2 linked regions of the Homo sapiens genome follow. Changing the gene in region 2 together with the main gene of any one other region gives a genetic interaction. Each region holds a gene or a part of one and is shown on either strand. Other genes may lie near its edges.

Evidence for each region.
Region 1: changes in DYRK2 (region 2) and NF2 together harm fitness more than expected from each alone (negative genetic interaction), as found in Homo sapiens cells (one large-scale study listed by BioGRID).

Annotation. Positions count from the first base shown.
Region 1 is NC_000022.11:29,610,002-29,613,823, reverse strand, and holds part of NF2 (merlin), read right to left. Parts: intron 1-3,822. UniProt on the Homo sapiens protein: Probable regulator of the Hippo/SWH (Sav/Wts/Hpo) signaling pathway, a signaling pathway that plays a pivotal role in tumor suppression by restricting proliferation and promoting apoptosis.
Region 2 is NC_000012.12:67,655,022-67,658,843, reverse strand, and holds part of DYRK2 (dual specificity tyrosine-phosphorylation-regulated kinase 2), read right to left. Parts: intron 1,739-3,822; coding exon 131-1,738; 3' UTR 1-130. UniProt on the Homo sapiens protein: Serine/threonine-protein kinase involved in the regulation of the mitotic cell cycle, cell proliferation, apoptosis, organization of the cytoskeleton and neurite outgrowth. Functions in part via its role in ubiquitin-dependent proteasomal protein degradation.

The sequences.
Region 1 (3,822 bases), on a different chromosome or scaffold from region 2:
TGCACCACTGCACTCCAGCCTAGATGACAGAGCGAGACTCCATCTCAAAAAAAAAAAGAAAAAAGAAAAGAAAGGACTATTCCTTCTCACAGTCTGTGGCATGTAGCAAGAAAAGACAAGACAAGACAGTTCTCCCCCACTGAATGGTCTTTGCACCCTTGTCAAGAATCAGGTGACCATGAACTCTCAACTCTATTCCACTGGGTTTATTTCTGGACTCTCAATTCTATGCCACTGATCTACACATTTATCCTTATACCAGTACCACACTGTCTTTTTATTTTTATTTTTTTGAAATGGAATCTCGCTCTGTCCCCCAGGCTGGAGTGCAATAGCACGATCTCGACTCACTGCAACCTCCACCTCCTGGGTTCAAGGGATTCTTGTGCCTCAGCCCTCCCAAGCAGCTTGGACTACAAGTGTGCACCCCCACGCCCGGTTAATTTTTGTATTTTTGGTAGAGACAAGATTTCGCCATGTTGCCCAGGCTGGTCTCGAACTCCTGTCCTCAAGTGATCTGCCTGCCTTGGCCTCCCAAAGTGTTGGGATTATAGGCATAAGCCACGGTGCCTGGTGACGTTGTCTTGATTAGTTGTTTTATAGTATGTCTTGAAATCACAAAGCGTGAGTCTTTCTGCTTTGTTCTTTTTCAAGATTTAGCTATTGTGGGTCCCTTGCGATTCCATAGGAATTTATGAATTGACTTGTCAATTTCTTTTTTTTTTTTGAGATGGAGTTTCGCTCTTGTTGCCCAAGCTGGAGTGCAGTGGCGCGTGATCTCAGCTCACCGCAAGCTCCGCCTCCCAGGTTCAAGCGATTCCCTGCCTCAGCCTCCCGAGTACCTGGGATTACAGGTATGTGCCACCACACCCGGCTAATTTTGTAGTTTTAGTAGAGACAGGGTTTCTCCATGTTGGCCAGGCTGGTCTTGAACTCCTGACCTCAGGTGATCCGCCTGCCTCGGCCTCCCAAAGTGCTGGGATTACAGGCATGAGCCACTACGCCTGGAGACTTGTCAATTTCTACAATGAAATAAACTGGGATTCTGACAGGGATTATGTCAAACGTGTAGATCAATTTCCAAAATACTGCCAATTTGACAACGTTATGTCTTATGATCCATGAACAAGAGCTATTTTCTATTTATTTATTTATTTATATCTTCTTTCTTTTAAAAATGTTTTACAGGCCAGGCACGGTGGCTCACACCTGTAATCCCAGCACTTTGAGGGGCCAACATGGGAGGTTGCTTGAGGTCAGGTTCAAGACCAGCCTGGGTAACACAGGGAGACTCTGTCTCTACAAGAAATTAAAAAACAAACAAACAAAAAAAAAAAGCTAGGGATGATCGCGCATGCCTGTGGTCTGAGCTGCTTGGGAGGCTGATATAGGAGGATCACTTAAGCCTGGAAGGTCTAGGCTGCACTGAGATATGATTGCACCACTGCACTTGTTCTCACTTCAGTGCAAGTCCGAGAAAAAAAAAAATCAATTAATTAAATATTTTAAAAGGCCAGGCTGGGCGCACTAGCTCACGCCTGTAATCCCAGGACTTTCAGAGGCTGAGGCGGGTGGATCACCTGAGGTCAGGAGTTCGAGACCAGCCTGGCCAACATGGTGAAACCCCCTCTATACTAAAAATACAAAAATTAGCCAGGCATGGTGGTGCACACCTGTAGCTCCAGCTACTCCGGAGGCTGAGGCAGGAGAATCGCTTTAACCTGGGAGGCAGAGGTTGCAGTGAGCCGAGATCGCGCCACCGCATTCCAGCCTGGACGACAGAGTGAGACTCCGTTTCAAAAAAAATTAATTTAAAAAACAAAACCAAAAATGTTTTACAGCTTTTAGAGTATAAGTTTTATACTTTCTTTTACTAAACTGTCAGAGGATGGAAAAAAAGATACCTCTTTTGTTATAAGTATTTTTATTTTTTAGGTTATTGTAAATGGAATTTTCTTAATTTCCTTTTCAGATTGTTCATTCCAAGTGGATACATTTACAACTAAGTTTTGTGTAATGATCTTGTATCCTATAACCTTACTAAACTAATAATTTATTAGTTCCAATACTTTGGTAGTGGATTCCTCAGGGTCTATATGCAAGATCATGTCATCTGCAGAGATGATCTTACTTGTTCCCTTCCAACATAGATGTATTTTATTGCATTTTCTTGCCTAATTGCCCTGGCTAGAACCTCCAGTACAATGCTGAATAGCAGTAGTGAAAGTAGACTTATCTCTCTTTTTCCTAATCTTAAGGATAAGCATACAGTCTTTCACTATTTTGTTTGTTTGTTTGTTTGTTTTGAGCTCTGTCGCCCAGCCTATTGTGTGCAGTAGTGCTATCTCAGCTCACTGCAACCTCTGCCTCCCAGGTTCAAGCAATCCTCCCACCTCAGCCTCCCAAGTAGCTACAATTATAGGTATGCACCACCACACCTGGCTAATTTTTTTTTGTATTTGTAGTAGAGACAGGGTTTCACCATGTTGGCCAGGCTGTTCTTGAACTCCTGACCTCAAGTGATCCCTCCAACCTTGGCCTCCTAAAGTGTTAGGATTACAGGCGTGAGCCACTGTGCCTGGCCTCAGTCTCACTATTATGAAGTTAGCTGTGGGTTTTTCATAACTGCTGTGTATCAGGTTGAGGAACTGCTCTTCTCTTCTTAGTTTATTTAGTGTTTTTATCATGAAAAACATGCTGAATTTTGTCAAATGCTTTTTCTGTGTCTACTGAGATGACAAGGTGATTTTTGTTTTTTATTCTATTGATATAATGCATTACATTATTTACACTAATTCATTTTTGGATGTTAAACCAACCTTGCACTCCTGGAATAAATCCTGCTTGTTTATGGTATATAATTATTTTTATATGTTACTGGATTCAGTTTGCTAGTATTTTTGTTGAGGATTTTTGCTTCCACATTTGTAAGATATATTTGTCTATGGTTTTCTTTTCTTGTAATGTCTTTTCCTGGTTTTTGGCAACAGGGTAATACCAGTCTCATAAAATTCGTTTGTAAGTATTTTCTCCTCTTTTTCATTTTTGAAGACTTTGTGAAGAACTGTATTAATTTTTCTTGAAATGTTTGATAGAATTCAGTGGTGAAGTTATCAGGACCTCTAGTAGGTACAGGCCTGGGCTTTGCTTTGCTTTTCTTTCTTCTTTTTTTTTTTTTTTGAGATGGAGTCTCACTTTGTCACCCAGGCTGGAGTGCAGTGGCGCAATCTCAGCTCACTGCAACCTCCAACTTCCCGGGTTCAAGCGATTCTCCTGCCTCAGCCTCTCGAGTAGCTGGGACTACAGGCGCACTCCACCATGCTCGGCTAATTTTTGTATTTTTAGTAGAGATGGGGTTTCACCATATTAGACAGGCTGGTCTTGAACTCCTGACCTCGTGATCTGCCCACCTTGGCTTCCCAAAGTGCTGGGATTACAGGCATGAGCCACTGCACCCAGCCTCTTTTCTTTTTTTTAAGAGACAGGGTCTCACTCTGTCACCCTGGCTGAAGCACTGTGGCACAATCATAGCTCACTGCCTCCTCAACCTCCTGGGATCAAGTGATCCTCACACCTTAACCTCCTGAGTAGCTGGGACTCCAGGCTCACACCACCACGCCTAGCTGAGTTTAGATATAGTATGTATATTTTAGAGTTGGGGTCTCTCTATGTTGCCCAGGTTGGTCTCAAGCTCCTGGCCTCAAAGGATCCTCCTGCCTTGACCTCCCAAAGTGCTGAGATTACAGGCAACAGCCACTGTGCCCAGGTCTCTCTCTCTCTCTCTCTCTCTAATTATTTATTTATTTTTTAAGGGTATACTAT
Region 2 (3,822 bases):
TAAGTGCTGAAAAGATACAAATGAGTAGAGTTATTGAGCAAATAAAAACAGGTCTGAGCTACTCCTTTTCAACCCAGTAAGGCTCAGCAATGTCGTATCTTTCAGGTTACCAGCATCAGGGGACGTGAGCTCAGCTAACAAGTTTTGGCAACACTGTCCTCTGCTGAATATTCCCATTGGCATCTGTCATCTGCGCCAAATTAGTCCTCAGTTTGGAAGCTGAGCTAGAAGGTGGAGGTAACTTGGATATAGATGTGATAGCACCGGTGCTCTCAGTTATCCTTTTCACTGACGTTTTCTCCCCGGTGGGAGGCTTTGGCAACCGCCTCCTCAGCCAGGGGTGCCGCAAAGCCTGGCCTGGGGTCATGCGCACTGCAGGATCCCACTCTAAACACTGTTTTAAGAAGTCAAGGAAAAGGGGATCATCACACCCCTTCAGCGCGTTCCCCCACTCTCTGCTCTCCGGTGGGCCCCTCAGTTTCCCCCTCCGGGAACGGCCTCCGTTTAGGACCACAGAGCCATCTGAGAGAGTCGTGACAGTGCAGTAACGGGGATAACCCTTGGAGCTCACAAAATTTTTGGCTCGTTTGGATGCATCCAGCAGTTTCTGTGAGGGCATGCCCAACAGTTCAATCATACAGGCCAGCTGGTCCCCTTCATCTTCCCCAGGCAAGAGGGGGTAACCCGTCAGGAGCTCTGCTAAAATGCAGCCCAGGCTCCACATATCAATGGGCATGCCATACCTGGCCCCAAGGATCACTTCTGGAGCCCGGTAAAAACGCGACTGGATGTACGTGTAGACACGCTGATGCTCGTAACAACTGGAGCCAAAATCAATTACTTTAATACCGCTTCTACCCTGCTGCTTTAACAAAATGTTCTCGGGCTTAAGGTCACAGTGAATTATTCTGTTTTTGTGCAAAGCATCCAAGCACTGCAGAATCGAGTGGGCAAACTTGCGAACCAAAGGCAGACTGAAGCCCTGGAATTTATTCTTCTTGATGAGCTCATAGAGGTTCATGCTCAGCAGCTCAAACGTCATGCAGATGTGGTTGCGGAAGGTGAAATTCTCCAGCATATGGATGACATTCATTGTGTTATCCTTGTCCTGCTTCCGCAGGTGTTCCAGGATTCGGATCTCCTCCGCTGCTTGCCGGTGGAAGCGCTTCTCATTCCGCACCATCTTTAGGGCCACGTGCTGGTGGACTTTGTGATCGTAGGCCTTGACCACCTGCCCAAAGCTCCCCTTCCCAATGACCTTGAGGACCTCATACCTGTAAGCCACGTGATCGTGGGGCACCTGCACATATGATCCCTGGTCATCATCATAGCCACCATTGTTGGGCCCACCTGTCATGCCCTGGCGCTTCTTAGCATTTAGACCCAAGAAATATATTTCAGGGTAGCTGAAAATCTCATGGTGTTCGAAGGCTGTGAGTTTTTGCATGTATTGCTTCATTGCTTGTTCAGGTGTCATGGGGGTGGCTTTCACCTTCCCCATGCCTTCCATGGACTTTAGAGAGGTGGAGCTCCCCTGCCGTCTATGAATGCTGTCCAGCTGCCGCTCTGGCACCACTGGCAAGCCCGTTTTGCCCACTGTTGTAAGCCCATTTGGTTGTGTCGTGAGCACTGTCCGCTTGTTACTGTTATCCTCAAACAACTGTTGAACCTGGATCTGTCCGTGAGCGTGGCTGCCGACATGCAGGTGATCATTCATTGTGTGCTTACTGCCGCCAATCTGGAATTCAGACAGGAAATATAAATAGAAAAGAAGTGGTGTCTGTTCAAATGGTGTATAAGTAACCCCCAACAACACCACCGCCCCCAACCTCACATTTACAAAATCCCATTTGGTTTGAGTAAAAGCCACAAAACATGTGATCCTGAAAAATGGACCTCATAAATGCCATGCCTAACAGACAAGATGGTTTGCTGTACATATTCAGGGTTCCCCACGGAGACAGAGACCTTAACTTTATCATTCTATATCTAACACTTAGTATAGGGCCTGGCACATCATAGGTGTTCCACTCAATCCACATTTGATACAAAAATGAAACAGGATACAGAAAAAAACATGCACACATAAGACTCTATGTTGGCTCCTCCACCCCCAGATCACAGCACCTTTCATATTTCATCTAGTAGTTTATTAACATGAAGACAGGGACCATGTCTGTCTTGTTCACTACTCTTTCCCTAATACCTAGAGCTCTATCCTGAAAACACTTCATCACCAGTATTTCCCCTTTCCTTGAAAATCTGATGAAACCTAAGTGCACACATGATCCAGTGACAAAAACAAAAACCCTGTGTTTTTAGACTTGAAAGATTCCCATGTAGATGTGTACCATAGTATCTTATGGACCCCTGACCTATTTTTAAAAGTTTCCAGGCTTTACTAACTGTAATAACCATTTAAGGCATTCAGCCCAACAAACCAAGCAACGACCACACTGTTTGGCCTTCCTCCGGAGGGGTCAGTGGCTCAGCTCTCTGAAGATGTCCATTTCTACAAGCTGCTGGGATACTCAGATTTCCAAATAGGAATCCAAAGAAGCAACCTCTGTTTCAGGTATGCATGCCATCCCTGAACATTCCTGTCTAAATTCTATCAATGGTGTGAACCAAGGGACCCCAGCCCTCTACTGAGAATCTTCTTGGGATTTCCTTTAAGCATTATGGCTGCTGAGAGGTAAGGGGTAGGAGAGGACTGGCAGCCAGGATCCTCTCCCAGTTAGGAATTCCTGCCTTGGACAACCCCTAGTCTTAAAGCAGCCTGGCAGGTGATTTCTGTATGAAATCTTACACCACCTTGTCATCACAATCCACCTCATTCAGTCAACTGGTATTAACAGGAGGCTGGCTGCCAAAGTGACAGAGTCCCTGCCCTCCAGGAACTTACAATTAACTAGATGAAGTCCACTGCCATCAGTATTTTTTCTACTATCCCCTTTTAAATCCTACCTTTGGGGCTTTACATACTACTGAAAGAGCAGAAGGGCTCTGTATATGTAACACAGTAATTCAAAACATGATTTGGGAACACCTGGATTACAAAATGAAATTCCAACTCCTTCTTACTAGCAGACCAAGACGTTCACATTTTCTTTATTGGATACATAATATGCACAATGACTATGTGGAGTGTGAGCTTCCTCTCTGCCCACTTCTAACTAAAACAAAACAGAAGACAATACTTGGGGCCTGTCTGACTGTGACTTCATAGGCTCAGGGATATCATTTCTTAGACTTATAACTGAGCTTTTTTATCACACTCATAGATGATACTCCATGCTAGGTGACCTTATATTCAATAAGAGTAGCTAGAAAGGTTATTTTACCCTTGTTCTATGCCAAAAGCAGGGCAGTCCATAAAAATGAATCAGGCAAGTCTTGGGCATATATAAAAGAGGTACAGGCTTGTCCAATGCTTCTCTTCCCCAGCCTCGCTCTCTGCACCCTCTCCTGTCCACTGTGGTCTTTCAAACACCAGACAATAAAGGGGCCTGAATCAAAATATCTCTCTCCTATAGAATCATTTTCTTTAGAGTGGAGTGGTGATATTTCAGCAGAAAAATTCACATTACCTGTATACATGCTATAAAAAGCATAAAGCTCTTCATTAGGACAAAATTAACCTTGGGGCTTTAGAGATTTCTAAAAACACAGCAAAGTAAAACCAAGCCTCAGAAATTTACTTCAAGCAATTTTTGTGTTTCGCATAATTTAATACATGATCACAAATGTTTTAGTAACTAAAACTAACGAGACTGACAAGAAACGACCATCTTCTATATCTCCAACTGCCTTCTCTTGGTC